Homo sapiens: one gene and its partners. The protein of the gene in region 4 purifies or fractionates together with the protein of the main gene of each other region. This does not show direct contact. Each region holds a gene or a part of one and is shown on either strand. Other genes may lie near its edges.

What was found.
Region 1: the proteins of SLC35G2 (region 4) and UBXN8 purify together in Homo sapiens (affinity purification with mass spectrometry; one large-scale study listed by BioGRID and IntAct). This does not show direct contact.
Region 2: the proteins of SLC35G2 (region 4) and YME1L1 purify together in Homo sapiens (affinity purification with mass spectrometry; one large-scale study listed by BioGRID and IntAct). This does not show direct contact.
Region 3: the proteins of SLC35G2 (region 4) and DDX23 purify together in Homo sapiens (affinity purification with mass spectrometry; one large-scale study listed by BioGRID and IntAct). This does not show direct contact.
Region 5: the proteins of SLC35G2 (region 4) and DNAJC11 purify together in Homo sapiens (affinity purification with mass spectrometry; one large-scale study listed by BioGRID and IntAct). This does not show direct contact.
Region 6: the proteins of SLC35G2 (region 4) and GPR89A purify together in Homo sapiens (affinity purification with mass spectrometry, with the first as the bait; one large-scale study listed by BioGRID). This does not show direct contact.
Region 7: the proteins of SLC35G2 (region 4) and MGST2 purify together in Homo sapiens (affinity purification with mass spectrometry; one large-scale study listed by BioGRID and IntAct). This does not show direct contact.

What each region holds. Positions count from the first base shown.
Region 1 is NC_000008.11:30,753,683-30,758,105, forward strand, and holds part of UBXN8 (UBX domain-containing protein 8), read left to right. Parts: intron 1-982; coding exon 983-1,105; intron 1,106-3,082; coding exon 3,083-3,205; intron 3,206-4,423. UniProt on the Homo sapiens protein: Involved in endoplasmic reticulum-associated degradation (ERAD) for misfolded lumenal proteins, possibly by tethering VCP to the endoplasmic reticulum membrane. May play a role in reproduction.
Region 2 is NC_000010.11:27,116,071-27,120,493, reverse strand, and holds part of YME1L1 (ATP-dependent zinc metalloprotease YME1L1), read left to right. Parts: coding exon 1-59; intron 60-1,044; coding exon 1,045-1,200; intron 1,201-2,766; coding exon 2,767-2,918; intron 2,919-4,148; coding exon 4,149-4,275; intron 4,276-4,360; coding exon 4,361-4,423. UniProt on the Homo sapiens protein: ATP-dependent metalloprotease that catalyzes the degradation of folded and unfolded proteins with a suitable degron sequence in the mitochondrial intermembrane region.
Region 3 is NC_000012.12:48,845,174-48,849,596, reverse strand, and holds part of DDX23 (probable ATP-dependent RNA helicase DDX23), read left to right. Parts: intron 1-3,814; coding exon 3,815-4,023; intron 4,024-4,423. UniProt on the Homo sapiens protein: Involved in pre-mRNA splicing and its phosphorylated form (by SRPK2) is required for spliceosomal B complex formation.
Region 4 is NC_000003.12:136,821,496-136,825,918, forward strand, and holds part of SLC35G2 (solute carrier family 35 member G2), read left to right. Parts: intron 1-4,423.
Region 5 is NC_000001.11:6,638,981-6,643,403, forward strand, and holds part of DNAJC11 (dnaJ homolog subfamily C member 11), read right to left. Parts: intron 1,078-4,423; coding exon 922-1,077; intron 1-921.
Region 6 is NC_000001.11:145,620,926-145,625,348, reverse strand, and holds part of GPR89A (Golgi pH regulator A), read right to left. Parts: intron 2,296-4,423; coding exon 2,189-2,295; intron 1,757-2,188; exon of another isoform or gene 1,737-1,756; coding exon 1,635-1,736; intron 1-1,634. UniProt on the Homo sapiens protein: Voltage-gated channel that enables the transfer of anions such as iodide, chloride, bromide and fluoride which may function in counter-ion conductance and participates in Golgi acidification.
Region 7 is NC_000004.12:139,678,839-139,683,261, forward strand, and holds part of MGST2 (microsomal glutathione S-transferase 2), read left to right. Parts: intron 1-4,423. UniProt on the Homo sapiens protein: Catalyzes several different glutathione-dependent reactions. Catalyzes the glutathione-dependent reduction of lipid hydroperoxides, such as 5-HPETE.

The DNA of each region.
Region 1 (4,423 bases), on a different chromosome or scaffold from region 4:
CCCATCCTCTGAAAACCACCAATCTGCTTTCTGTTGGTATGGATTTACCTATTGTGGATGAATAATATTCCATTGAATAGATATACCACTTTTTTTTTTTTTTTTTTTGAGACTGGGCCTCTCTCTGTTGCCCAGGCTGGGGTGGAGTGGTACAACCATACCTCACTGTCGCCTCAAATTCCTGGGTTCATGGGATCTTCCTGCCTCAGCTTCCTGGGTAGCTGGAACTACAGGCACACACACACCACCATGCTCAGCTAATTTTTAAAAAATTTTGGGCCAGGCGTGGTGGTGCACGCCTGTAATCCCAGCACTTTGAGAGGCTGAGACGGGTGGATCACGAGGTCAAGAGATCGAGACTATCCTGGCCAACAAGGTGAAACCCTGTCTCTACTAAAAATACAAAAATTAGCTGGGCGTGGTGGCAGGCACCTGTAGTCCCAGCTACTTGGGAGACTGAGGCAGGACAATCACTTGAACCCAGGAGCCAGAGATGGCAGTGAGTGGAGACTGCACCACTGCACTCCATCCTGGGTGACAGAGTGAGACTCCATCTCAAAACAAAAACAAAAACAAAGGATGTTGGCTTCCCTCTCCAGATTTAAGATCTGAAATTCTAAAGATGGCACTTGGTTTCCCATTTGTGACAAATCCTTGGAGTTGCCATACCGGCATTCAATTTGAATCAGGATAGGAAAAGTAGATCCTCCCATTCTCTCAGGAAATGGGATTGTTCCCAGCATGAAAACCACAACCTGGTTGATACTGTCATAATCAGGCAGGTCAAAAACAAATGCCTGTCCCGCTTGCTGTCCAGCTGTCGGCACGAGCCTCCCCACAACCAAGCAGCCAAACAGGGTGGCAGTGGCTCTGTTCAGCCAGCAGGGTTCTTACTTGGTTCTTATTTACAACTTTATAGACAGTGTACATTTTTAGGAACATTAATGGATAGTAACAACACCTAATTTGTTGTTTTCAACAGGCCAGCAGATACATAGAGAATGTTTTAAAACCTCACCAGGAAATGAAATTGAGAAAACTGGAGGAGCGCTTTTATCAAATGACGGGTGAAGCCTGGAAATTAAGCAGTGGTCACAAACTTGGGGTTGGAAAATATTCTCATTTTATATTTTGAATCCTCTTACTATGTTTCCTATTACATGATTGATTTTTAATTGAAAATGATGTTAGACTGCTTTTAGGAGTTTTTATTGATAATGATTATCAGTTTTTGTTCAGCATACTTGTTTATTACATGGTTAAGGGGTTGGTCGTTTTTTTTTTTTTTTTGAGATGGAGTCTTGCTTTGTTCCCCTAGGCTGGAGTTCAGTGGCACAATCTCGGCTCACTGCAAGCTCCGCCTCCCAGGTTCATGCCATTCTCCTGCCTCAGCCTCCCGAGTAGCTGGGACTACAGGCGCCTGCCACCATGCCCAGCTAATTTTTTGTATTTTTAGTAGAGATGGGGTCTCACCGTGTTAGCCAGGATGGTCTCAATCTCCTGACCTCATGATCCGCCCGCCTCACCCTCCCAAAGTGCTGGGATTACAGGCGTGAGCCACTGAGCCCAGCTGGTCTTTGTTTTTAAAAGACAGTCTCTCTCTCTTGCCCTGGCTGGGGTGCAGTGGCACGATCATAGCTCACTGCAGCCTCAAACTCCAGGGCTCAAGGGATCCTCCTGCCTCAGCTTCTTAAGTAGCTGGGACTATAGGTGCACCCTACCATGGACTGCACCTGGCTGGTTAAGTGGTTTTTGGTGCCTAAAGAGCATATAACTTGGTTCCTTAAAAAGCTGTTGTGGTGGCTAACGCCTGTAATCCCAGCAATTTGGAAGGATGAGGCAGGCAGATTGCTTGAGACGAGGAGTTTGAGACCAGCCTGGGCAACATAGGAAGACCCTGTCTCTACAAAAAAAAAATTAAAAATTAGCCAGACGTGGTAGTGTGTGGCTGTAGTCTCAGCTACTTGGGAGGTTGAGGCAGGAGGATCACTTGAGCCCAGGAGGTCAAGAGGCTGCAGTGAGCTGTGACTGTACCACTGCACTCTAGGCTGGGAGACAGAGCAAGACCCTTTCTCCAGAAAAAAAAAAAAAAAAAAAAAGAAGACTGACTGTGACATAAGATAGTCTTTAAAACTGTCAAATAAATTGTTATTGTCTTATATGAGGACAAGAATATTCTGATCTTTCCTCAAGTCAAGATCTCCAAGGTATTAAGCTCAGGTTATATATGTTATTATATATTATATATTCTGATTTTTAAGTCAAATTAAACTTTGGTTATGTTTTCCTTCAGCATTGAATATGAATTTTGTCAGTTTCTATAGAAGTTTACAATTTTAAATTTTCTTTTTTTTTTTTTTGAGGCTGAGTCTCACTCTGTCGCCCAAGTTGGAGTGCAATGGCACCATCTCAGCTCAATGCAACCTCTGCCTCTCAGGTTCAAGCAATTCTTCTGCCTCAGCTAATTTTTGTTTTTGAGACAGAGTCTCTCTCCATCGCCCAGGCTGGAGTGCAGTGGTGCGATCTCAGCTTACTGCAACCTCCGCCTCCTAGGCTCAAGTGATTTTCCTGCCTCAGTCTCCCACGTAGCTGGGATTACAGGTAACTGCCACCGCGCCCAGCTAATTTTTGTATGTCTTTTTAGTAGAGATGGGATTTCACCATGTTGGCCAGGCTGGTCTCTAACTCCTGACCTCCTGTGATCTGCCCACCTCGGCGTTCCAAAATGCTGTGATTACAAGCGTGAGCCACCATACCCGGCCAATTTTTGCATTTTTTTAGTAGAGATTGGGTTTCACTGTGTTAGCCAGGCTGGTCTTGAACTCCTGACTTCAGGTGATCTGCCCTCCTCAGTCTCCCAAAGTGCTGGGATTACAGGTGTGAGCCATAGCACCCGGCTCAAGCCTCGTGTTTTCCTGTCCACGGAGATAATGCTTTAATTTTTTGGGTCTCATAATGGCTTGCTAATATTTTTCTACTGATATGCCATCAGGGTAAAAAAAGGAAAAAGGAAAAACAATTGTGAATAGAATAAAGTTGATAGAAAACATCTCTTTAGAAATTGTCTGTTGTGTTTGACCAGGGTGATGAAGGTACAAGTCAGACATCTTTTGAAACATCAAACAGAGAAGCAGCAAAGAGCCAGAACTTGCCTAAACCTTTAACTGAATTTCCGTCTCCTGCTGAACAGCCCACATGCAAGGAGGTAAAGTACTTCATGCCTCTCATTGAATTGTGTCTGTGTGCAGTAGGAGTATTGAACTCTGGGTGAGGTGGTATACTGGGTGAAGATCAGGACTGGCCTTTCATCCAGATGGTGTCTTCCCACTGCCTTACAAAGCAATCACCCCAGAATAGGCCGGGCATGGTGGCTGACATCTGTAATCCCAACACTTTGGGAGGCCGAGGCCGATGGAGGTTGAGGCCAGGAGTTTGAGACCAGCCTGGCCAACATGGTGAAACCCCATCTCTATTTAAAAAAAAAAAAAAAGAATAATTTTCCCTGTTCAATATTAATGATGTTCTGAATCCAACTTGGAAGCAATAAAGACAAATGATAATAGGTTTAGAAAATACTCAATTCTTAGCCAGGCACTGTGGCTCATGCCTGTAATCCCAGCACTTTGGGACATGAAGGCAGGCAGATCACCTGAGGTCAGGAGTTCAAGACCAGCCTGGCCAACATGGTGAAACCCCATCTCTACTAAAAATACAAAAAAATTAGCTGGGCGTGGTGGCAGGCACCTGTAATCCCAGCTACTGAGGAGGCTGAGACAGGAGAATCGCTTGAACCTGGGAGGTGGAGGTTGCAGTGAGCCAAGATTGCACCATTGCACTCCAGCCTGGACAACAGTAGTGAAACTCCATCTCAAAAACAAAAAACAAAAAACAAAAAGGGCTGGGCATGGTGGCTCATGCCTGTAATCCCAGTAGTTTGGGAGGCCGAGGTGGGTGGATCACGAGGTCACGAGTTCAAGACCAGCCTGGCTAAGATGGTAAAACCCCATCTCTACTAAAAATACAAAAATTAGCCAGGTGCAGTGGCAGGCGCCTGTAATCCCAGCTACTCAGGAGGCTGAAGCAGGAGAATCTCTTGAACCCAGCGGGGTGGAGGTTGCAGTGAGCCTAGATTGCGCCACTGCACTCCAGCCTGCGCGACAGAGTGAGACTCCGTCTCAAAAAAAAAAAAAAAAAAGAATTGATATTTTTTCTTTGTTTTTTTGAGACAGAGTCTCACTCTGTCGCCCAGACTGGAATACAGTGGTGAAATCTCAGCTCACTGCAGGCTCTGCCTCCTGGGTTCACACCATTCTCACCATTCTCCTGCCTCAGCCTCCCGAGTAGCTGGGACTACAGGCGCCCACCACCCCACCCAGCTAATTTTTTTGTATTTTTAGTAGAGACGGGGTTTCACCATGTTAGC
Region 2 (4,423 bases), on a different chromosome or scaffold from region 4:
TGTAAAAGGTCGAACAGAAATTTTGAAATGGTATCTCAATAAAATAAAGTTTGATCAATGTAAGTATCAAAACAAACATTTGTCATTTCTGTAAAGTGGTAATATACCACTCACCCTGTTTGTGGTCCTTTCATGATACATGTATTAACATTAAAAGACCAGTTCATTTTTGTCTTTTTTTTTTCCATTAGTATGTTCGTTTAAAAGTCCATTCCTTAGTGTATATCCAGGAGATTCTATTGTTTTGAACCCTGAGTCTAAAGAAAGGTTTTTTTAGAGTATTCAGACAGATAATATTTGAGGATACATACATATACATACACACACACACATTTTTTTAAGATGAATGTAAAATGCAAAATAATTTAAAAAAGCTGCAGAAACAGTAACTCATGATATAGTCAGTGTGGGGCCAAAAGAGAAGAAAGCAAATTATAAAACAAAACACATGGAAATTTATTACTCACTTGAGTAATAAATGAAATTATTAAAGCTGCAGTAGTTTCAGAGATAGCTGTATCAATTCATTAAACTATACATGTTTCCTATAAGGGCAGCTTTTATGTCTAAAGTATTTCCAGATGAAATTCAGAGAAAAAGTGACTAAACTATGGCTCAGAATAGCTAGCTATTTTCTTTTTTCCCTTGGAATGTGAGGTGTTTTTTTTTTTTGGTTTTTTTTTGAGACAAGAGTTTTGCCCTTTTTGCCTAGGCTGGAGTGGAGTGGCACAATCTTGGCTTACTGCAACCTCCACCTCCCGGGTTCAAGTGATTCTTCTGCCTCAGCCTTCTGAATAGCTGGGATTACAGGTGCATGCCACCATGCCCAGCTAATTTTTGTATTTTTAGTAGAGATGGGGTTTCACCATGTTGGCCAGGATGGTCTCCAACTCCTGTCCTTAGGTGATCTGCCTGCCCCAGCCTCCCAAAGTGCTGGGATTACAGGCATGAGCCAACGCACCCAGTTGGAATGTGAGTTCTTTGTGAAGAGCTTTCTTTTACCTGTTTTAGACTTATTAGCGTTGTGTTCTCTTTTTACATTAGCCGTTGATCCAGAAATTATAGCTCGAGGTACTGTTGGCTTTTCCGGAGCAGAGTTGGAGAATCTTGTGAACCAGGCTGCATTAAAAGCAGCTGTTGATGGAAAAGAAATGGTTACCATGAAGGAGCTGGAGTTTTCCAAAGACAAAATTCTAATGGGTAGGTTTCCTTTCTTTTTTTTCTGTCTTTTACTTTTCATTGTGTTAGATAATTCATTTAGGGGCAAATACTCTATTCAAACAGCTAAAGCCATGGCTATGTTGAATCTAATCTTACTCTAAAACTTCAGTGTCTGGGTTTTCAAGATTTGTAATAAATGATTTTACAAAATTCCCAACTTAACATCAAACAAATGCCATTAAACTGTAACATTTTCTTGACAATAATCTTGTCAGTGATACAGAACTGATTTTATAGTGTACCACATTTATTAGTTTTGTCTCTTTCTTAGAAAACCTTTTTTTCTGACTGGAAAGCTTTAAAAAGTGATGGGAACATGAAAATATATACTTGACAACACCACAATTTGGCATCTTACGAAACAAATATATTCTAGTTGCTTATGTAATTATATAGTTAAACTGGTAGTGGGGAGATGAGGCACGTATACATTTCCTCTTGTCAGACATTGCTGCGAAAAAGGATACTTTATTCTGTGCTTAATTTCGATTTTAAATCTTGGATTGGCTTAAAATCACATTAATTATGATATTCTTGTTAAACTGGAAGTTTATTTTATAGAAATAGAAATAAGTTTTCCCTTTTGAATTAAGATGATAGTTTTGACAGTTTTGGTTTTCAGTTAAATTGTTAAAGTTTGTATGTGTTAGGAATGAATTCTGCCCATTTTAAAAAACTTTGTAGACTGGGCGTGGTGGCTCACACCTGTAATCCCAGCACTTTGGGAGGCCAAGGCAGGAGGACTGCTTGAGCCCAGAATCGTTGGAGTTCAAGATCAGCTGGGCAACATAGCAAGACTCCATCTCTACCAAAAATTTTAAAAATTAGTTGGGTGGGGTGGCATGCGACTGTGGTCCCATCTACTTGGGAGTCCTAGGTGGGAGGATTACTTAAGTCCAAGAAGTTAAAGCTACAGTGAGCCATGATCATGCCACTGTATTCCAGCCTGGGTTACAGACCCTGTTTAAAAAGAAACAAAATTACTAAAAATTACTAAAGCTAGGTGCAGTGGCACATGCCTGTAATCCCAGCACTTTGGGAAGCTGAGGTGGGTGGATTGCTTGAGGCTAAGAGTTCAAGGTTGGAGTGAGCTATAATAAGAATGACTTTAAGGAGAATGAGTTTTTTGTTTTATAATATTAATCCCATATCAGATACATTCACCTCTCAGTATCCACTGAAGGGGTGGGGATTGGTTCCAGGACCCATGTGGATACCAAAATTCAGGGATGCTCAAGTGTCTTTTATAAAATGGTGTACTATTTGCATATACCTACATAATTCTCCTGTATACTTCAAATCATCTCTAGATTACTAATACAATATAAATGCTCTGTAAATAGTTGTTATAATGTATTTTTTTCATTTGTATTATTTTTTATTGTTCCTCTTCCCCATAGTTTTAATCCTTATTTGGTTGAATCTATGGATGCAGAATCTGCTGATAGGAAGGGTGGAGTGTATTTGATTTGCAGACAAGAATGTGTTTTGTTGATTTAAATATACCTTTCTAATGGAGTATTTACTCAATTAAATTTATCTTAGGGCCTGAAAGAAGAAGTGTGGAAATTGATAACAAAAACAAAACCATCACAGCATATCATGAATCTGGTCATGCCATTATTGCATATTACACAAAAGATGCAATGCCTATCAACAAAGCTACAATCATGCCACGGGGGCCAACACTTGGACATGTAAGTTTTTTGTAGTGTCTCGCCCTGTCACCCAGGCTGGAGTGCAATGGCGCGATCTCAGCTCACTGCAACCTCTGCCTTCCGGATTCAAACGATTCTTTCACCTCAGCCTCCCAAGTAACTGGGATTACAGGTGCCCACCACCACGCCCAGCTAATTTTTGTAATTTTAGTAGAGATGGGGTTTCACCATGTTGGCCAGGCTGCTCTAGAACTCCTGACCTCAGGTGATCCACCTGCCTCAGTCTCCCAAAGTGCTGGGATTACAGGCGTGAGCCACCATGCCCTGCCTAATTCTTAAATATCTAATTACTCCGCTGCCCCAAAAGGGAAAACATTATGTTTTGTAGTAACTGATTCAGTAGTTTCTCTAAGATTTTTATCATTTAGTACAAGTTTATCAGATCTTTCAACATTGTAGACATTTAAAAAATTTCTATGCACCTGGGGAGAAAACAGTCCTATTGCAGCATTATCCACCTATTGTTGTTGCTTTATAAAGGATGTTTTTATTCTCTAATTGCTGGTTTTTCATCAGTCCCCTGATGACCAGCTTTCAGCAACATGGTATAAAGTACTTTAGTGAGAGCTAAATGATAATTCTGGTTTGTATTTTTTTATTTTGCCCAGTCTTACGGTGCTGAAATTCTGGTTTTTAATGTAACTATATCAGAACTGTATCTGAATTTTTTTTAAATTTTTATTTTATTTTATATTGATGGAGTCTCGCGATGTTGCCCAGTCTACTCTCAAACTCCTGGGCTCAAGTGATCCTCACACCTCAGCCTCCCAAAGTGCTGAGACTACAGGTATGAGCCACTGCACCCAGCCTGTATCTGAATTTCTTTCATTACATTTTATTTTATTTTAATTTAATTTGGTTTTATTTTATTTATTGTATTTTATTTTTGAGATGGAGTTTCACTCTTGTTGCCCAGGCTAGAGTGCAATGGCATGATCTCAGCTCACTGCAACCTCTGTCTCCTGGCTTCAAGTGAGTCTTCTGCCTTAGCCTCCCAAGTAGTTGGGATTATAGCCATGCACCACCATGCCTGCCTAATTTTGTATTTTTAGTAGAGACAGGATTTCTCCATGTTGGTCAGGCTGGTCTCGAACTCCCAACCTCAGGTGATCCACCCACCTCGCCTGCCAAAGTGCTGGGATTCAGGCGTGAGCCACCGCACCCAGCCTCTTTGCTTATTTTTTATCTGATTAATTTTTAATTGTCTAGGTGTCCCTGTTACCTGAGAATGACAGATGGAATGAAACTAGAGCCCAGCTGCTTGCACAAATGGATGTTAGTATGGGAGGAAGAGTGGCAGAGGAGCTTATATTTGGAACCGACCATATTACAACAGGTTAGCTTTAAAGAATGGCTTTAGTTCAAATTATATGTGGTCTTAAAGATATGTTTTAAAATGGTATGTTTTTATTTTATTTTAGGTGCTTCCAGTGATTTTGATAATGCCACTAAAATAGCAAAGCGGATGGTTACCAAATTTGGAA
Region 3 (4,423 bases), on a different chromosome or scaffold from region 4:
ACCCGCACCTCCTGGGTTCAAGCAGTTCTGCCTCAGCCTTCCGAGTATCTGGGATTACAGATGCCTGACATCACGCCTGGCTAATTTTTGTATTTTTAGTAGAGACGGGGTTTCACCCTGTTGGCCAGGCTGGTCTCGAACTCCTGACCTCATGATCTGCCTATCTCAGCCTCCCAAAGTGCTGGGATTACAGGCGTGAGCCACTGCTCCTGGCCTCCGGCTGATTTTTAACTGTTTATAAATGTAAAATTTTATTGTTCAAAATAGACGGGAAGTCTTGCTATATTACCCTGGCTGGTCTCGAACTCCTGGGCTTAAGTGATCCTCCCGCCTTGGCCTCCCAAGGTGCTGGTACTACAGGCATGAGCCACCAGGCCTGGCCAAACAAATATGTTTTTAACTGACAAACGTGTAGTTGGGCTCACACCTGTAATACCAGCACTTTGGGAGGCTGAGGCCGAAGGATCCCTTGAGCCCAGGAGTTCAAGACTAGCCTGGGCAACAAATTGAGACCTTGTCTCTAATAAAAATTTTAAGAATTAGTTGGGGCCGGGCATGGTGGCTCATGCTTGTTATCCCAGCACTTTGGGCACTCAGGGCGGATCACCTGAGGTCAGGAGTTTGAGACCAGCCTGGCCAACATGGTGAAACCCCGCCTCTACTAAAAATACAAAAATTAGCCAGGCGTGGTGTGGCACGCGCCTGTAATCCCAACTACTCAGGAGGCTGAGGCAGGAGAATCACTTGAACCTGGGAGGTGGAGGTTGTAGTGAGCCAAGATCATGCCATTGCACTCCAGCCTGGGCGACAGAGCAAGACTCCATCTCAAAAAAAAAAAAAAAAAATTAGTCAGGTGTGGTGGCATGCGCCTATAGTCCCAGCTACTTGGGAGGCCTAGGCAGGAGGATCGCTTGAGCCTGGGAAGTCAAGGCTGCAGTGTGCCGTGATTGTGCCACTGCCCTCCATCTTGCGTGAGAGGGTGAGACCCTGTCTCAACAACAACAACAACAAAACAAACCTGACAAACATGCTAAGCTAGTTCACATTTCTTGTATCTAACAAGGGTTTTTTACCCTGATCTTTTCATGGCCCTCTTTCCCATCATTCAAGTCTCAGCTTAAATGTCAACTAAAACTTCTTCCCTGAGCCATCTATCTCTTGTTATACCCCTACCCATCATATCACTGTTTTATTTTCTTCATTAGCATTCATTACTATTTAAAATCCTTTCCGCTACACTAGAATTTAAGCTTTATGAAGTAGGAGACTTTGTTTTCTTTTTTTTTTTGTTTTTTGTTTTGTTTTGTTTTTGAGACGGAGTCTCACTCTGTCACCCAGGCTGGAGTGCAGTGGCATGATCTCGGCTCACTGCAAGCTCTGCCTCCCGGGTTCACGCCATTCTCCTGCCTCAGCCTCCCGAGTAGGTGGGACTACAGGCGCCCACCACCACGCCCGGCTAATTTTTTTGTATTTTTAGTGGAGACGGGGTTTCACCCTGTTAGCCAGGATGGTCTTGATCTCCTGACCTCTTGATCTGCCCGCCTCAGCCTCCCAAAGTGCTGGGATTATAGGCGTGAGCCACCACGCCCAGCATGAGACTTTGTTTTCTTTACTGCTTTGTCTCCGTTACCTACAACAATTTCTGGCACCTTGTAGGTGCTCGGTGAATATTTGTTGAAAGAATGAATGAAATCCAGGATGCTGTACAGAGAAAATAGCCTTCCTTTGGGATTGTTTTCTTAGGGCTGTAAGTGTTTTTTTTATTTTTTATTTTTTGGTGTGTGACAGGGTTTTGCCCTGTCACCCAGACTGGGGTGCAGTGGCACAATCTCGGCTTACTGCAGCCTCTGCCTCCCGGGCTCAAGCAGTCCTTCCACCTCAGCCTCCTGGGTAGCGTGTACCACCATGCGTGGCTAATTTTTTATATTTTTAGTAGAGATGGGTTTTTGCCATATTGCCCAGGTTGGTCTCGAACTCCTGGACAAGCGATCCACCCACCTCAGCCTCCCAAAGTGCTGAGATTACAGGCATGAGCCACCACACCCAGTCAAGACATAGGTATTTCTTTCTTTTTTTTTTTTTTTGAAACGGATCACGCTCTGCTGCCAGGCTGGAGTGCAGTGGTATGATCTTGGCTCACTGCAACCTCCGCCTCCTGGGTTCAAGTGATTCTCCTGCGTCAGCCTCCTGAGTAGCTGGGACTACAGGCACGTGCCACCATGCCTGGCTAATTTTTGTATTTTTAGTAGAGATGGGGTTTCACCGTGTTGGCCAGGATGGTCTCAATCTCCTGACCTCATGATCTGCCCGCTTTGGCCTCCAAAAGTGCTAGGATTACACGGTGAGCCACCATGCCCAGCCCAAGACATAGGTATTTCTGTGTGATAGCCATGATGTACTGATACAGAACAATCAGTCATTTCTCAGGTGATTGTGAGATAAAATGGGTTGTCCTCACCTTTTGAAAGTGCTTCTTGTTCATTTTTCTTTTCTCATCTTTATACAATCTTTCTTAAGGATATATGGCAGGGAATGGCATGAGAAAGGGGCTTGTAAGCTAAAGCTTAAGGAACCATTCGAGCTGAACCATTTGGGGATAAAATAAGTTGCGAGAAATGTATCCCAAGTCTTTGGGATGATGATGAGGTGGTTGCAGATTCAGGCTTGCTGCAGTTTTAGCTCCTGGCTGAACTAGAGTTCATAGCCCAAAGAAGAGTTGACAGTGTGGGAGTGGTGTTCGGTGTCTCCCAGGTAGGAGGGAGACAGAAAAAATTCCTGCTGAAACCTTTCACAAAACTGGGTTATGCAGATGACCAAGGTTGTGAAAATCTGAATAGGGAATGTCAATCAGGACTTCTGCAACCTCTAGTTTTGGGTATTTAAAATATATATCTTTGAAATAATTATAGTTTCACAGGAAGTTAAAAAATGTGTATAGAGGTTCTGTGTACCCTTCACCAAGTTCTTCCCATTGCATAATTAGAGGTACATTTCTTTTAATCTGAGTAAAAGTGTGTTTCTCCACTTAAATTCAGGTTTTCCTTGTGGTGCTAATTATAACGTAATCCAGATCTCAAAGTTAAACTTTTTTCTCCATTGAGCTTTCTTTATGAGCTCAAGAAAATTTATCTCTCTCAGACGTATGAGTGCTAACTGATCCTAGTGGGTTGGCAGACCTAATAAACTTCAAAGTAAGCAATATAGGATGTTTCTAGAAATAGTTGGTACACTGTTCATACACTAACACTTCTTTTAATACTCTTTTGTAGTCTAATTACAAAAACATGGTATATTCACTGTACATATTTAGAAATGAATATATAAAAAGGAATCGACCAGGCACTGTGGCTCACGCCTGTAATCTCAGCCTTTTAGAGGCTGAGGCAGGAGGATTGCTTGAGGTCAGGAATTTAAGACCAGCCTGGGCAGCATAGTGAGACCCTGTCTATAAAAAAAATAAATTAGCTAGGCAAGGCAGGAGGATGGCTTGAGCCCAGGAAGTTGAAGCTGCAGTGACCTATGATTGCACCACTGCACTCCAGCCTGGGTGACAGAGTGAGACTCTGAAAGGAATTACAGGGAGACAATATAGTGAGTAACGATGGCCTGTGGAGCCAGACTGCCTGCAACTCTGCCACTACCTGTCTGCCCTCAGACAAGTTCCTTTATATACCTGAGCTCCACCGTTCTCATCTGTACGGTAGACATACTAATATATCCACCTCATAGGGTTGTTTTGAGGGTAATTGAATTATATATAAGCAGTTTAGAGCAGTGCCTAGTACATTGTAAGTACTCTTCCTACTCATTACAGATGGCAGGAGAGCTGGCTGACAAAAAGGACCGTGATGCATCACCTTCCAAGGAGGAAAGGAAGCGATCACGGACTCCTGACAGAGAGCGGGATAGAGACCGGGACCGGAAGTCTTCCCCATCTAAAGATAGAAAGCGGCATCGTTCAAGGGATAGACGTCGAGGAGGCAGCCGTTCTCGCTCTCGTTCCCGTTCCAAATCTGCAGAAAGGTAAAGTAACTTTGTATGTTATTACATGGGAAGGGAGAGTACGTTTCAGATTTCTTCCTTCTTGGTTCTTCTGATGCCTCCAGTATTAGGCATCTACTTTTTATTTTTATTTTTTGAGACAGAGTCTCGCTCTGTTTGTTACCCAGACTGGAGTGCAGTGGTGCGATCTCAGCTCACTGCAAGCTCCGCCTCGCAGGTTCACGCCATTCTCCTGCCTCTGCCTCCTGAGTGCGTAGCTGGGACTACAGGCGCCCGACACCATGCCCGGCTAATGTTTTTGTATTTTTAGTAGAGATGAGGTTTCACCGTGTTAGCCAGGATGGTCTCGATCTCCTGACGTGATCTGCCTGCTTCAGCCTCCCCAAGTGCTGAGATTATAGGCGTGAGCCACCGCGCCTGG
Region 4 (4,423 bases):
GAGTGCAGTGACGTGCTCTCCGCTCACTGCAACCTCTGCCTCCCGGGTTCAAGGGATTCTCCTGCCTCAGCCTCTTGAGTAGCTGGCCACCGCACCCAGCTAGTTTTTATATTTTTAGTAGAGACAGGGTTTTACCATGTTGGCCAGGCTGGTCTTGAACTCCTGTCCTCAGGTTATCTGCCTGCCTTGGCTTCCCAAAGTGCCAGGATTACAGGCGTATGCCACTGCACCCGGGCCTGCCTTCTTAACAAAATTTTACGTGTATAATACATTATTGTTGATATGTATTGTTGATAGGTGCAATGCTGTATAGCAGATCTTTAGAGCTTATGCATCTTGCTTGACTGAGACTTTATGCCTGTTGATTAATAACTCCTGATTTTCCCCTGCCCTCCAGTCCCTGGAAACCACCATTCTACTCCTCGATTCTATGACTTTGACTACTTCATTTTTATTTCTATTTATATTAATTTTTAATTTTTGTTGGTACATAGGTATATATATATTTACGGGGTACATGAGATGTTTTGATATAGGGATGCAACATGTTTAATAATCATATCATGGTAAATGGGGTATCCATCCCCTTGAGCATTTATCCTTTGTTTTTATAAACAATCCAGCTGTACTCTTCTAATGATTTTAAAATGTACCATTAAATTATTATTGACTATAGTCATCCTTTTGTGCTATCAAATACTAGGTGTTATTCATTCTTTCTACTTTTTGTATCCATTAACCATCCCCAGTTTTCCCCACACCCCCAACTCTCTCTCACTACCCTTCCCAGCTCTGGTAACCACCATCCTTCTACTCTTTTTCTTTTTTTGAGATTGAGTCTTGCTCTTGTTGCCCAGGCTGGAAGCTGGAGTGCAGTGGCATGATCACAGCTCACTGCAACCTCTGCCTTCTGGGTTCAAGTGACTCTCCTGCCTTAGCCTCCCAAGTAGCTAGGATTACAGGTGCCCGCCACCACACCCAGCTAATTTTTGTATTTTTAGTAGAGATGGGGTTTCACCACGTTTGCCAAGCTGGTCTCGAACTCCTGACCTCAGGTGATCTGGCTGCCTCAGCCTCCCAAAGTGCTGGGATTACAGGCGTGAGCCACTGCGCCCAGCGTACTCTCTATCTCCATGAGTTCAATTTTTTTGATTTTTAGATCCCACAGATAAGTGAAAACACGTGAAGTTTGTCTTTCTGTGCCTGGCTTATTTCACTTAACATGATGACTTTCAGTTCCATCTGTGTTGTTGCACATAACAGGATCTCATTCTTTTTTATGCCTAAATAGTACTCCATTGTATGTAAATATCTGTTGATGGACACTTACGTTGCTTCCAGATCTTGGCTATTGTGAACAGTGCGGCAACAAACATGGGAATGCAGATAACTCTTCCATATACTGATTTCCTTTCTTTTGGTTATGTACCCAGCAGTGGGATTGCTGGATTGTATGGTAGCTCTATTTTTATTTTTTTGAGGCACCTCCAAACTGTTCTTCATAGAAGTTGAACTAATTAATAATCTCACCAACAATGTGTGAGAGTTCCCTTTCTCCACATCCTTGCCAGCTTTTGTTATTGCCTGGCTTTTGGATAAAAGCCATTTTAACTGGAGTGAGATGATATCTCATTGTAGTTTTGATTTGCATTTTTCTGATGATCAATGATGTTGAGCAGCTTTTCATATACCTGTTTGCTATTTGTATGTCTTCTTTTGAGAAATGTCTATTCAGATCTTTTGCCCATTTAAAAATTGGATCATTAGATTTATTCTGATAGTTATTTGCCATTCCTTATGTATTCTGATTATTAATCCCTTGTCAGATGGGTAGTTTGCAAATATTTTCTCCCATTCTGTGGGTTGTCTTTTCACTTTGCTGACTGTTTCCTTTGCTGTGCAGAAGCTTTTAAACTTGATGTGACACCATTTATTCATTTTTGCTTTGGTTGCCTATGCTGGTGTGGCATTACTCAAGAAATTTTAGCCCAGAACAATGTCCTGGAGAGTCTCCCCAAGTTTTCTTGAAGTAGTTTTATAGTTCGAAGACTTATATTTAAGTCTTTATTCCATTTTGATTTGATTTTTCTTTTTCTTTTTTTTCTTTTTGAGATGGAGTCTCCCTCTGTCACTCAGGCTGGAGTGCAGTGAGTGCAGTGGCTTGATCTCTGCTCACTGCAACCGCCGCCTCCCAGGTTCAAACGATTCTCCTGCCTCAGCCTCCTGAGTAGCTGGGATTACAGGCGCGCGCCACCACACCTGGCTAATTTTTTTTTTTTTTTGTATTTTTAGTAGAGATGGGGTTTCAGCATGTTGGTTAGGCTGGTCTCGAACTCCTGACCTTGTGATCCACCCACCTCAGCCTCCCAAAGTGCTGGGATTACAGGCTGATTTGATTTTTCTATGTGGTGAGTGATAGGGGTCTAGTTTCATTATTCTGCATATGGATGTTGTTTTCCCGGTATCATTTATTGAAGAGACTGTCCTTTCTCCAGTGTATGTTCCTGGCACCTTTGTGGAAAATGAGTTTACTGTAGCTGTATGGATTTATTTCTGGGTTCTCTATTCTGTGTCATGGGTCTATGTATCTGTTTTTATGCCAGTACCATGCTGTTTTGGTTACTATAGCTCTGTAGTATAATTTGAAGTCACGTAATGTGATTCTTCCAGTTTTGTTCTTTTTGTTCAGGATAACTTTGGCTATTCTGGGTCTTTTGTGGTTCCATATAAATTTTAGGATTTTTTTTTCTATTTCTGTGAAGAATGTCATTGCTATTTAAACAGGAATTTCATTAAATCTATAGATTGCTTTGGGTAGTATAGACAGTTTAACAATATTGATTCTTCCAATCCATGAACATGAAATATTTTTCCATTTTTTGGTGTCCTCTTAAATTTCTTTCACAAATGTTTTATAGTTTTCTTTGTAGAGATCTTTCACGTCTTTGGTTAAGTTAATGCTTAGGTATTTAATTTGATTTGTGGCTATTGTAAATGGGTTACTTTTTTGATTTCCCTTTCAGATCGTTCACTGTTGGCATATAGAAATGCTGCTGACTTTTGTATGTTGATTTTGTGTCCTGCAACTTTACTGAATTTGTTTATCTGTAAACAGTAGTTTACTAATGAATTCTAAAGTTCTAGCAGTTTTTTGCCAGAGTCTCTAGGTTTTTCCAAATATAAGATCATATCATTTGCAAACAAGGATAATTTGTCATCTGCTTTTCCAGTTTGGATGTCCTTTATTTCTTGCTTTTTTAAAAAAATTATACTTTTTAAGTTCTAGGGTACATATGCACAACGTCCAGGTTTGTTACATAGGTATACATGTGCCATGTTTCTTTGCTGCACCCATCAACTCGTCATTTACATTAGATATTTCTCCTAATGTTATCCCTACCCCAGCCCCTGACTCCCCACCTACCAGCCCTGGTATGTGATGTTCCTCACCCTGTGTCCATGTGTTCTCATTGTTCAGCTCCCACCTATGAGTGAAAACATGCGGTGTTTGGTTTTCTGACCTTGTGATAGTTTGCTTAGAATGATGGTTTCCATCTTCATCTATGTCCCTGCAAACGTGGATGTCCTTTATTTCTTTATATTATCTGATTGCTGTAGCTAGGACTTCCAGTACTGTCTTGAATAACAGTGGTGAAAGTGGCCATCCTTTTTCTAGATCTTGAAGGAAAGGCTTTCAGTTTTTCCCCATTCAATATGATACTAGCTGTGGGTCTATCGTATATAACTTTTTTTTTTTTTTTTTGAGACAGAGCCTTGCTCTGTTGTTCTGGCTGGCGTGCAGTGGTGCCATCTTGGCTCACTGTAACCTCTCCCTCCCAGGTTCAAGCAATTCTCATGCTTCAGCCTCCCAAGCAGCTGGGACTACAGGCATGCACCACCATACCAAGGCTAATTTTTTGTATTTTTAGTAGAGGCAAGGTTTTGCCGTGTTGGCCAGGCTGGTCTCAAACTCCTGGACTCAAGTGACCCGCCCCCTCAGCCTCCCAAAGTGCTGGGATTACAGGCATGAGCCACCTTGCCCAGCCATATATGGCTTTTATTATGCTGGGATATGTTCCTTCTGTGCCCAGTTTTTTGAGGATTTTTATCATGAAGGGATGTTGAATTTTATCAAGTGCTTTCTCAGCATTAATTGAAATGATTATATGATTTTTGTTCTTTATTCTGTTGATATAATTTATCACATTGATTGATTCACACATGTTGAACCATCCTTGCATCCCTGGGATAAATCCCACTTGGTCATGATGAATGACTGTTTTAATGTATTGTTGAATTTGCTTTACTAGTATTTTGTTGAGGATTTTTGCATCAGTATTCATTAGAGATATTGGCCTGTAGTTTTCTTTCTTTGATGCGTCTTTGTTAGTTTTGGTATCAGAGTAATACTGGCCTCATAGAG
Region 5 (4,423 bases), on a different chromosome or scaffold from region 4:
AGGATTCTGAGTCCAAAGGCCAGACGGGCCCAGAAGAGGAGATTCATTCCTTTATCTGAGATTCTCTAAGTGCAATGCTTTACTAAATGAGATATTATAAAGTAACAAATCTATACCAGCTCTCAGTTTTCTGTAGAGATGCTTGCACTAATAATTTAGGTTTCACGGCATGCCCCAATGGATTATCTAAGAAACTGCAAAAACGTTGTGTTTCTGTGACTTTCAAGACTCTAGTTAACGCAGGCCCCTCACATACGGATCCAGAACGCATTCCTCTTAAACTCAGCGCTGGGAAAGGAGAAAGGAAAACTTCTTCTTTCTTGAGGCCATGGTTTAGAGGATCAACACTTTTTTTTTTTTTTTTTTTGAGACCGAGTCTTGCTCTGTCACCCAGGCTGGAGTGCAATGGCGCAATCTAGGCTCACTGCAACATCCACCTCCCAGGTTCAAGCAATTCTCCTGTCTCAGCCTCCCAGGTAGCTGGGATTACAGGCACGTGCCACCACGCCCGGCTAATTTTTCTATTTTTTTAGTAGAGACAGGGTTTCACCATGTTGGCCAGACTGGTCCTGAACGCCTCACCTCGGGTAATCCACCTGCCTCAGCCTTCCAAAGTGCTGGGAATACAGGCGTGAGCCACCACGCCCAGCCGAGGCCCAACACTTCTATAAACTCCAGTCCTTTCTGAGAGTAAGATTTACAAACGAAGAGATAACAGCAGTCCAACTACGGACAATGAGGAGAAATAGTTAACATTTACCAATCGTGACCCAGACATCAGCCTAAGTGCTTTACATGCATTACTTAATTCAGGTTTCCTCATCACCCGACGCAGGAGGCTCTGTTATCCTCTCCATTTTAAGGGTGAGGAAACTGAGGCACAGGGCTGGCTAGTGACATGCCCATGACGTGTCAACTCACTTCTCTTTCTGAGCCCTGAGGTATGGTTTGATGATCAGACGGTGCATGGCAAAGTAGACCACTAGAGGCCCCACGGTGGCATAGAACATGGCGCTGGGCAGAAGCTGGTCCGTCAAGTGAATAGGGAAGAAGTATGTCTGACTGGCCCTGTTGAGCCTGGGGAAAAATACAAAAAAAAAAAAAAAAAAGCCAAGATGAATCAGGTTTTCCAGGGAAGGGCAATGGGGTGTCAGGCACAGGAAGAGAACTTGTGCTGCGTGCAGCTGCGAGTTAAAGGAGCCTGCAGTCTGCTCCTTTCACAGTCCACCACCTTCTGGCCTCCCGTTCCAAAGTCTGGCTGATGGATCTGACACTGTGACAGAAGAAAGATCCCAGTGTCTGCTGACCTCAAGCCAAAGCAACAAGAGGAACACTTCACGGGGTCAACGTCCCCTACAGGTGCATTCAGTCATAGGCTGGAGAGGACAGGAATGGGCTCCTCCAGATGTCACTGGAGAGTCACATCTCAGTTCTTAACTGAGGTTTCCAAAGAAGTTAGTGAAGACTTCAAAAGTTAGTCAGTTAAGGAGGTTCTGCTTCCAGTGGTGGCTGAGTAAAGTAGCTCCTATTGGACCAATGTGTAAACTCTGGACCACATATAAAAAATTTGGCCAGGCGTGGTGGCTCACGCCTGTAATCCCAGTACTTTGGGAGGCTGAGGTGGGCGAATCACCTGAGGTCAGGAATTTGAGACCAGCCTGGCCAACATGGTGAAACTTCATCTCTACCAAAAATACAAAAATTAGCCGGGCGTGGTGGTACCTGTCTGTAGTCCCAGCTACTCGGGAGGCTGAGTGAGGCGGGAGAACGCTTCAACCCAGGAGGCAGATTGTACCACAGCACTCCAGCCTGGTCAACAAGAGGAAAAGGACTGAGGATGCATGGACAGAATCTCAGAAACCCGTGGAAGAGTGTTAAGTTTAATATATTGGTAATTAGAGCCCCAGTGAGGAAAAGGAAATTTACAGATGCAAGAAGTTTAGGAAACCCCAAGCATCATAAATACAACAACAGCCTTATCTATGTACATCACAAACTGCTGAAAAGCCAGAAAAAGAAAACATGCTGAGTAGCCACTGACAATACCTGATCACACTCTTCCAGAATAAAAGCTCTTCCAGAATAAAAGCAATTCCAGAATTGATAAAGAACACTCAAAACTTGGCCAGGCTCAGTGGCTCACGCCTGTAATCCTAGCATTTTGGGAGGCTGAGGCAGGAGGATCGCTTGAGGTCAGGAGTTTGAGACCAGCCTGGCCAACATGGTGAAACCCTGTCTCTACTTAAAATACAAAAATTAGCTGGGTGTGGTGGTGGGCGCCTGTAATCCCAGCTACTCAGGAGGCTGAGGTAGGAGAATTGCTTGAACCTGGGAGGTGGAGGTTGCAGTGAGCCAAATGCACTCCAGTCTGGGGTGCAAGAGCGAAACTCCGTCTCCAAAAAAAAAAAAAATATATATATATATATACACACACACACACACACACACACACAAACAGAGACAGGTTAAATGTGAATGGGTAAAAAAAATAAATAGTAAGCATAAGAAGACTAAAAAAGCTATATAGTAACAGATAAGGTAGACTTCAAGACAAAAATTTTTTTTTTTTTTTGAAGTGACAGGGTCTCACTCTGTCATCTAGGCTGAGGGGCACAATCACAGCTCACTACCACCTTGAGCTCCTGGGCTCAAGTGATCTTCCTGTCTTGGCCTCCCAAAGTGTGCGCGCCACTGTACTGAGCCTTCAAATATTATCTGAGGAGAGATGGCTGACGCCAGCTCTAATCTAGGTAAGTGATTTGGCTTTGTTTCCAAAACTGAGCTGTGATCCACTTTGATTCACTCACTGAGTTCCTCTCAAGTACCACGATGGGTTTTAGGTTCTAGAAGTGCGGGTGAGAATAAAATGGACCAAGTCCAAGAGCTTATGTCTGATGAGGAGTGCAGGAGATGGCCCTTCAGATGGAGACTGGCTCGTTGGAGATTGAACATGGCAAACATGGTGGGGGGGATCACCTGGGGCAAGGGGAAGGGCTACTATGTTATACAAGGTGAATTAGGGGACATTTGAGCAGACAGCAGATACTTACAGGGAGTGAAGGAAATGGCCACGTATTTATCTGCAGACTGAGAAATAGCAAAGGCCACCTCATAAGCAGGAGGGGGCCTGGTGTGTGCCAGGAATAGCTCCAGGGGGTCAGGATGGCTGGGGTTGGGGTAGAGAGGAGTACTACATCACGGAGGGCATTGTAGGCTCCAAAGTCTCTGAAGGGCTTTGGCCTCCGACTGGAATTGAGGGAACCTCTGAGGTTTTAGGCAGAAGACAGACGTGAACTGCCTTCAATTTTAAAAAGGACTCTCCTACGGAAAGCAGACACACAAGGAGGGAGACAGGTTCCGTGGGGAGGGTGCTGTGTAACTAAGACAAAGATGCTGGCCGCAGTGAGGTTGAGAAATGGCGAGACTGGGGATACAATTTTGGAGTACATGTTCAGGAGATGATTTTGAGATATGTATGATTTGGAGTGTGGGAGAGAAAGAGATCGAGGCTGACTCCAAGGTTTTTGGACAGAGCAAGTAGAAGGCCAGAGCTCTCATTTACTGAGATAGGAAAGGAGGCTGGGCGCTGTGGCTCACACCTGTAATCCTAACACTTTAGGAGGCCGAAGCGGGAGAACTACTTGAAGCCAGGAGTTCAAAACCAACCTGGGCAACCAAGTGAGACCCTGTCTCTATAAAAATAAAATAAAAAAAGAGAGAGAGATGGGAAAGACTTCGGGCAGAGCAGGTTCTGAAGGTTCTTCGTTTCTGGGGGCACAGGGAGGGATCGAGTTCTGTTTGGATACGTGACATCTGAGATGCTGTTAGGTATCCAAGTAGAGATTAGGAAGAGAAAGCTGGACAAATATATGAGCTGGAGATTGAGGGGGTGGTCCAAGCTGGCACTTGCAACGTGAGTCCTCAGGGCATGAGAGCCATGAGGCTGGACATGACTGCTTGGGAGTGAGTCGAGAGAGAAGGGCTGTGCCCTGCAGTGGTGCCTCCATTTAGGGGTTTGGGAGACAGCAGCCATCTGGTACGGAAAGCCAGAGCAGGGCGTGGTATCCTGGAAACTCAGGGCAGAGAGGCTGTAAGGGCAGGAGGGAACGGCCACCGCGACAGCAGGTGCAGAGACCAAATGAGATGAAGAAGAATCACCCTCTGATCTGCCACAGGAGGGAGGGTGCCCCACTGATGAGGTGAGAAAGGCTGATTCTGGAGAGGGCTGGTTTTGCTGGAGAGGCCTGACTGGAGCACGTTTAGAAAGAAAGAAGACGGATGCAAGCGAAAACAGACATTTTTTTTTTTTTTTTTGAGTGGAGTCTCGCTCTGATGCCCAGGCTGGAGTGCAGTGGCGCCATCTCGACTCACTGCAAGCTCTGCCTCCCGGGTTCACACCATTCTCCTGCCTCAGCCTCCCAAG
Region 6 (4,423 bases), on a different chromosome or scaffold from region 4:
AAAAAGAAACTTGAAATAATTTCACAGGACTGGAGAATGCAACATGTATAGAGAGCAGCAGCCAGGTCATGAAAGGTCTCATACGCCACCTAAGAGTTTGAATGCTTTTGGCAGGCTGGTGTTATGTTAAGTTTTCCGGCCTTTAACGTTATTTGAAATTTTGAAAGTTATTCTTATTTTAAAAATACACAACTATTTATGGTATTGCATATGCTTTTCAAAACTGCATATCTCCTCTGATCTTACTGCAGGAGAGTCTCATAACCTCTCTCCCGAAATTCCTGCTATAGGCAATCAGTATACATGGAAGGGTGTGTGGGAGGTATGGCAGATTCTATAATAGACACTGGCTCATTCAACATTAATTCCAATATCCTTTTCCAGCATTTGTTTTGGTACTACAGAGTTTAGAAAGCCAAAAGCCCCTTCTCAGACTTCCTTGAGGCCAAGGTTTTAAATATTACCTAGGTTTCACCAAAAAACCCGGCCCATGTGAGGCCTCAGATGCAGAAATGAACAATGTAGGGGTGGTGATAGCACTTAGGAGCTCAAACAGCTGGGACTGAGGTCCCTGATGTCATAGACCCTGAGTGGCAGGTGATAACTTCAGTGAGGTTTTCTAGTTTAGTATTGTGGCATAGTTGGGTATTTCTCTTCACTATATAGCAGTTAAGCTTTGCATCCCTACTTTCCTAGAAAGTCTATAAATTGCCTGATACTGTATAATTAATCACTTTCTGCTTTAAATTAGTTACAGTAGATTCTGTTTTCTGCAATAAGAAGCCTAGTAATAGGTACGGCAGGATGGTGAATAAAGAGGTATATATATATAGATTTTTTTAAAAAGGTTCCAGCATGAAACCTGTAGTATATTTATTACAGATGGGCTCTCTAATCTTTTTAGATAGATTCTCTAATCTTTTTAGATAGATTCATACATACTTCTGAAATAGTTCTGGAAGGACTTGTTAGCTGAGGTACTTTTGTTCATTGTTTTTAGCTTAAAAATTAGGGCTCTGCCAAATTTCTTGTTTTAAAATAAACTTTTTTTGTTAGAGGGGAGACACCGATTCTTGGAAAGCTTTTCTTTATCTACTAATTGTGGGTGTTTTATGTCACCTTTCCTCAAATACATATGCTTCCCTAATGTATCTTTATCATCACTTAAGCAGTGGCCGTTTACCTTTTGGGTCACAGACCCAAATCTGCTACCCAAATCTGATAAAAGTTTATTGATACCTTACCTCCAAATACACATACAAATATATTCCTGTAGTTCCATATACAATATGAGTTAGACACCGTTCTCTTTCCTTATACCCTTTAAGTATATTCAGTAAATGAAGGTCAAAAATTCCTACTCTAGAATGACAGAAGTGAGGTCCAAAACCAGCATTAGTTATCTCTTAGAATGAAGGAGAAAATGTGGTTCAAAATCAGACATTTTTCAGAGAAATAGCTTGCTATCCTCCTCAATCAGAAAAATTTTTTTCCAAATCCCAAGAACCTGTGAATTAATAAATTATTTCCCCAAATACATTTTTTCCCCAAGAAATTTAATTAATTGTTTTTGAAATCAGAAAATTAAACAAATCGTCTCCCCCCACTTCCTCTGCCCTCCTATATATACTCACCATGTTTTGGGCTGAGAATGGGAAAGGGATCTCCTAGTTTCCAGAAGAAATACATAAAGGTCAGCCATAAGAGACAGGAAAAAAGCAGTCGTTGTTTATGCACTGAGACAGAGGAGACAAAACTGTTAGGAAAAACAGATATAGGTTAAAGAGCTTGCTCTATTTAAAAATATAAGATAATGCTAACTAATATTTGGCTGCTAATTCACTTGGCAAATGACTGATGAACAGCATAATTTTTAGTGAAAGCATCCTTACCATCGTAAGAGAAATTTAGCTGAATTTAAGGTGTGGGATGAACTAAAGGAGACATTATTAATAGGTAGAAAAATAAAGCTGTGGCAGAACAAATAACCTAATCATTCATTCAATATTTATTTTGTGCCAATTCATTCAATATTTATTTTATATTTATTTTTAAGATGTTGTGTGTGAGGTATCCTCAAATAGCGGTAGATACTGAAAGTTAATGTAGAAATGAAGCTATCCACAATTTAAGTCCCCTCAAATACTCATCTCAATCTATATGCTGACTGAGAGGGTAAAATACTTACGTAGTCGGATATTGCTCACAATAAAATAGCCAATGTAAAAAGGCACCATGAAAACCAGGATCAGCAGAATTACACACAGGTTCATTTTCCAGTGAAAATAACGGGAGCTGAAATAAATGTCAAAGACTGTCACTGGGAGGAAGAGAGGGCAGCAACTTTCTTTCTCTTTAGTCTTCCAAAGGGTCCTTTTGCTCTTTGGACTCAATATTGAATATATCCTATCTAATCAGCCTACTAGGCTCTTAAAATCTACTCATTTGTAGAGATTAAAAAATACAAATTTTTGAAAGGTATATATGACCATCTTAACATCTTAAGAATTTCATATATTAAAATAAGAATGTTTATGTTTTTGATATATTCATAGGCAACATATACCATTAACATGTATCAACATATGCCATTGCTGGTAGAATGACTATTGTTTTACCCACCCCTAGGAATCTCATTCCAATGTAAGAATTAAAGGAAAATAAATGTTAACAGTAATATATGTTATACTCAAAAATATTTCTTTTGTACTCTTGATATAAACACCTGATTTGCATGAATTACTTTTATTAGTTTATAAGATGTACTTCATTTATTAAAACTTTTTGTTAGCACTTTTTATAACAGTTTTAATGAGATATAATTTACCCATTTAAAGTGTACAATTCAATGGTTTTTGTATACTCAAGAGTTGTGCAACCATCACCTAAATCAATTTTAGAACATTTTCATTACGCCATAAAGAAACCCTGTACCCATTAGCAGTCACTCCCTGTTTCTCCCCAATCTCCTCAGCTCTAGGAAACCACCAATATACTTTCTGTTTCTAGGAAACCACCAATATGTAATCTTTTGTGACTGGCTTCTTTTACTTACCATAATGTTTGCAAGGTTCATCCATGTTGTAGTATCTATCAATAATTCCTTTTATGGTTGAACAATATTCATCCCATTATATGGATATATTATATTTTGTTTCTGCATTCATTAATTGAGGACATTTGGGTTGTTTTTAGCTATTATAAATAGAGACGCTAGGAATGTGTGTGTATACATTCTGGTGTGGACGTATGTTTTCATTTCTCTTTAGGTAGAAATGGAGTGGAATTGTTGGGTCATATGATAAATCTATATTTAATCTTTTAGGCACTCCCACTGTTTCCCAATGTGGCTGCATCATTTTACATTTTCCTCAGGAGTGTATGAGAGTTCCAGTTTCTCCTCAGCCTCGCCAACACTTGTTATTTTCTGTTTTTTTTTTGGTTATAGCCATTTTAGTTGGTGTGAAGTGGTATCTCATTGTGGTTTTGATTTGCATTTCCTTGATGGCTAATGGTATTGGGCATCTATTCATATGTGCTTACTGGCCATTTGTATATCATCTCTGGAGAAATGCCTATTCAGATCCTTTATTCATTTTTTAATTGTATTATATGATTAAACTATAAGAATTCTTTATATATTCTAGATACGAGTCCCAGTCCATTATCAGATAGGTAATTTATAAAAATTTTCTCTTGTTTTTGGAATGTTGGTTCACTTTCTTGATGGTGTCCTTTGTATTTACTGATTTTAAACTTACTTAAGCCTTGTTTCAAAAAAGGCCTAAGTGGTTAAATGGCTTACAAAGATAAATAAAATACAGGATGATGAAATGAACTATAAGGAAATATGAACAACAATGGTAACAGGTAAAATATTGGGCCAAGCCTGATGGCTATTATAAAACAGAATTCTAGAAAGTTGCTATGGGTAGGTCATAAATTTAGCTTTAAGTTTTCTAATGGTCAATGTGAAATAAAAAATTTGATCAGTTAGATAAAATCATCATGTCTGTAAGAAAATAAAAATTAATTCCTCAAAGGAAGCATAATTATCATTTATTGTTACTGAATTATTAACAAGATTACAATGAAATTTCTTCAAAGATTTCATAAAGAAAATGCAAAGGCAATTAACAGTGTCATCAACAACATCCTTTCAAGAGAAATATGTTTCAGAGGGCTGTTTCTTATTGTTCCTTCCTTAGTACAGATGGCAGGCATCACGAAACAAAGAGCCATTCAGTAAAAGCTACCCTACAGGGAGTGAATACCATTTAGACTAGATACATTGACAGCTTTTTGCTCCTCTAGGTTAACAACTACTTTAGAACATTTAGAGAAAGAAACAAGCTGGACATCCTCCAGGCAATACTACATAGTATTTCAGCTAAGCTTCTGAAAGATTTTGGGAAGCAGTGGG
Region 7 (4,423 bases), on a different chromosome or scaffold from region 4:
TCTATTACCAATTCAGCAGGGTATATTTACAGAAAAGGCTGGGATCTCAGGAGGGACTGCTGTGTCTCCCAAGGAGGGTCACTGGGTCAAAGAGGCCCCCTGGAGCCTTGTGAGACCACAATAGTCTGAAGTTGGATTCGTTATGCTACAATTTTCTATCTTATTTTTTCCTCCCTACTTCAAAACAGAGGTAGATCAGGATTAATCTTTTGCCAGTTTCTCTGTGAACCATTTCTTAAAATCAGAAACCTGTAAGAATGAGAAAGCTTGCCAGCTCACATGCATGCGCCATGTTTTTTGATCATCTTGTGCTCCTTGTTTTTTCAGACCCACACAAAATGTTCCACCATAAACACCGTGAACTTGCCTGCTGCAGGAATGCTAGGGCGTACTTTATATTTCATCCCCCAAAATACGTGCTTTAAGAAACATTTCATGCGTCACCACTGATATATCATTGGGTTCTTTTGTTACCATCTTGGGATTTTTCATTTATGTTTACAAGTGAGATTGGCCTACACTTTGCCTTTCTTGTCTGGTTCTTGTCTCATTTTGATACAGATGAACCTAGTGTCAAATGAGTTGGAGGAAGCATCCTGTTCTACTTTCTCAGATAATTTTAATAAGGTTGGAAGAGTGTGTTCCTTCAAGGTTGTGTAGAACTTGCCTTAAAATAATCTGGGCCTAATGTTTTTCTGGTGGGAAATTTTTAAATTATGGGATTTGCATTCTTTAATGATTATTGGACTAGGCAGGCTTTTTGTTACATCTTGAATCAATTTTGGTAGGCCTTGGTCCTTGAGATGATAACATTGGTCTCTTGATTATCCACTTGCTCCAAGGAGGGTTTTACAGACTACTCCCTAGGCTTGAAAGCGTGGGGTGAATACCACCGGGAGTACACGAGATAATTGTAAGAGGTGTGTAGACTTGGTTTTAAATAACATTGAACTACATGATGAGAAGTCATTCTCATTTCAATTATCTTTGAATCCTTATGGTTAAGTCAAGTGGAAAGTATTGGTTTGGAGCCAGCATGTCCCACACCTCAAAATTAATGTTTATTTTTATCAAAGTAATTTATGTACGTGATCTGAAGATAAAGTGGGATTACAGGTTTTATGACAACAAATAACTCTTCCTTGTCCCTACCTCCCCTCTCCCTCTATCCCTAGAGATAACCCTTTTTGATTACTACTTTGGGTATTTACTTCTGTATTTCTAAACATTATACTTTCACTGCTATTTATTGATTCACAAATTTTAGACATTGTCAGTTGGCTTCTTTTTATGGAAGAAATAATTTCATGCTCCTTTACTTCTTCTTTTCCTTACCTCATCCTTCCAGTAACATTATATCACTCTGTTAGGTTAAATCAATAGCCAATGTTTATAATTATTGTGATTAAGAAAATAATGTTGAAAGCAGGGCCTTATAGTATACTGTGGTTACATTTCCTTCTTGTGCAATTTTTTTTCCCTAGGGTTAATAATTGCTCTTTATTTCTTTGTTTGCTTAGTTTCATGCCCAAATCTTCTGCAGAACTGAAAATCTCCTTTCGTTACATTCAAATGCATTAGATAATCTAGTAATACATTTTTCTGTCTTGGAGTCATTTCTGCCTGAGTCCTCCACTTTTCGCTTCAAGTTGCGGGATGCTCTTGGTGCTTGCTGCACAGCTGCTATCCTGGGACTTCCTGTCACCATCCTAGAAATTTCCCTTATACTGTCCTGATTTGGATTTCCTGGACCTCCTGTTTTCCTGTTTATTGGTTTTCTCTCTCTTTTTAGTGGAGTGCACCCTTCAGAAGCTTCCTGAGAAAGGGTGAATGTTTGGTAAAGTTTTGAGACTTCACATATCTGAAAATGCACCTTTATCTTGCCTCACAGTTAAGGGATGGCTTGTTTAAATGCATTTCTGTATTAGAAATCCTTACCCTTAGAGTTTTTGAAAAAATTTGCTCCATGGCTTCCTAGTTCCCACTGATATTGTTGAGATGTTCTGTGCTATTCTGATTCTGGACCTTTTGTTTGGAAACTATGGAAGCTTCAGGATCTTGCCTGGCCTACTGTCCCGAGATGTTAATAGCATTGTGCTTGTTGAGAGGCTTTTTCTTCACTGTGCTCAACCCCAGGTGAGGCCTTTTCACAGCCTGAAAACTCATGTCCTTCTGTTTTAGAATTTTTTTTTTGTTTTGAGACAGGGTCTCAGTGTTGCCTTGGCTGAAGTACAGTGGCACAATCTCACCTCACTGCAGCCTTGACCTGCCAGCCTCAGGCAATCCTCCTACCTCTGCCTCCTGAGTATCTAGGACTACAGATCTGTGCTACAATGCCCTGCTAATATTTGTATTTTTTGGTAGAGATAAGGTTTCACCATGTTGCCCAGTCTGGTCTCAAACATCTGGGCTCAAGCAATCTGCCCACCTCAGCCTCCCAAAGTGCTGGGAATACAGGTGTTAGCCACTACTCCTGGCCCAGAATATTTTTTAATATTATTTCTTCCCCCAGATTTCCTCTCCTTCATTTTCTCTGTTCTTTCATTCTTAAAACGCATACTAGTTGTGTGTTAACCTCCAGGACTGATCCTCTAGTTTTCTTTTATCTTCAGGTTTTCATAATTTTGGATTTTTGTTCTTTCAGAGGAATTTCCTCAACTTCTAACTTTTTATCTGAAATTTGAGATATCATAATTTTAATTTCCAATAACTTATTTTTATTCTCTGATTGCTTTTTAGTTGTTGGTGCTGATGTTAAACCGTCACTTTTTTATTTCATTGATGTAGTTTATTCTCTTATATTTGAGGATTTTAATTATAATTTTAAAAATTCTCTGTAACATTTCTGTTTCTTCCAAGTATCTTTGTGTCTTTTTTGGCCTTTGTCTTTCATTTGTATTTATTATTTACCCATTAAGTATTTATTGAGCACTTCTGTGTACCGGGCATTGTTATAATAGCTTGGCCTAGATCCATGAACAAATCCCACAAAAATCCTTGCCCTCTTGGAGTTTGCTGAGGAAGCCAGAAAATAAACAATAAGCAGATGATATTATAAGAAAATAATATAAGCTGGGCATAGTAGCTCACACCTGTAATCCCAGGGACTCAGTAGGCCCAGGCGGGAGAACTGCTTGAGACCAGAAGTTCAAGAGCAGCCTGGGCAACATAGCAAGAGCCCCCTCTCTCTATTAAAAAAAAATTAAAAAATTAGCCACATGTGGGTACATACCTGCAGTCCTAGCTACTTGGGAGGCTGAGGTTGGAGGATTGGTTGAGCCCAGGAGTTCAAGGCTTCAGTGAGCTATGATCATGCCACTATACTCCAGCCTGGGCAACAGCGAAAGACCCCAACTCAAAATGAAAGAGAAAATCATATATTATGTTAGAAGGTAATTGGTGCTAAAAAAAAAAAAAACAAAAACAGAAAGGATAGCGTTGTAAGAGGGTATGGGATGGGTTCCTGGGGGGTAAGTTGGGTGGTCTGTGATATACAATAAAGCTATGGGTGTAGGTCCCGCTGAGAAGGTGGCATTTGTGAACATGTAGAGAAAGAGCTCTTGGGTCAGAGACAATAGTCAGAGAAAAGCCCTTAGCTGAGGATACACCCAGTGGGTTAGTCAGGAGGTTAGGGGGCTGCAGGGAGCCTGGCAGGGAGTGGGAGGAGGTCAACTCAGAGAGGTCATAGACGGCTGGGTCACACTGGGCCTTAAAGGCCACTGTAGGGGACTTTGGCTTTTCTCTGAGTGAAATGGAAAGTCATGACAGGGTTTTAAGCAAAAGAGTGACATGATCTTATATTTTAAAAGGAGAATCCTGTTTGCTTTGCTGAGAAGAGCCTGTATAGAGGCATTGGTAGAAGCAGAAAATGCATTTAGAATTCCAGGCAAGAGATGATGGTGGCTGTGTTGCAGAATTTTTGCTCCTTAGTTCAGCTAAAACTGGGTTCTTGTCACATGGCCAGGAAAGATTAGGCGTGCTGACACATTGAAGGGTGAGTAGAGCAGAATTTATTGGATGTAAAGGAAAAAAAGAAAAAAAAAAAAAGAAACTCAACAAAGCGGGAGGGGGTCCTACTCACAGGCCCCTGCCTCGCAGATTAATTCCAGGTCACCACCCACGAGCTGGAGACCAGGCTCCTCCCTCTGCACAAGGTTCGAACTTCCTGTGGCTCCACCCTGTTCCTCCAGTGAGCATGCAGGCTTTATTCAGAAAGAATCAGTTTGGAAAGGGCAGGCAAGCGGGGGCAGTTCTCCCTCAGGGTGGCAAGTTTCATCCTGGACCAGCAGTCCAGGCTTTCAGCCTTCAAGCTTTTTTAGACTTGAGGGTGGGGTTTCACCAGGGACCCTTGGCTGTCTCCTGTCTCTGTCAGCTAGAGCCAGGGAGATAGCAGTGAAATGATGGGAAGTGGTCAGGTTCTGGA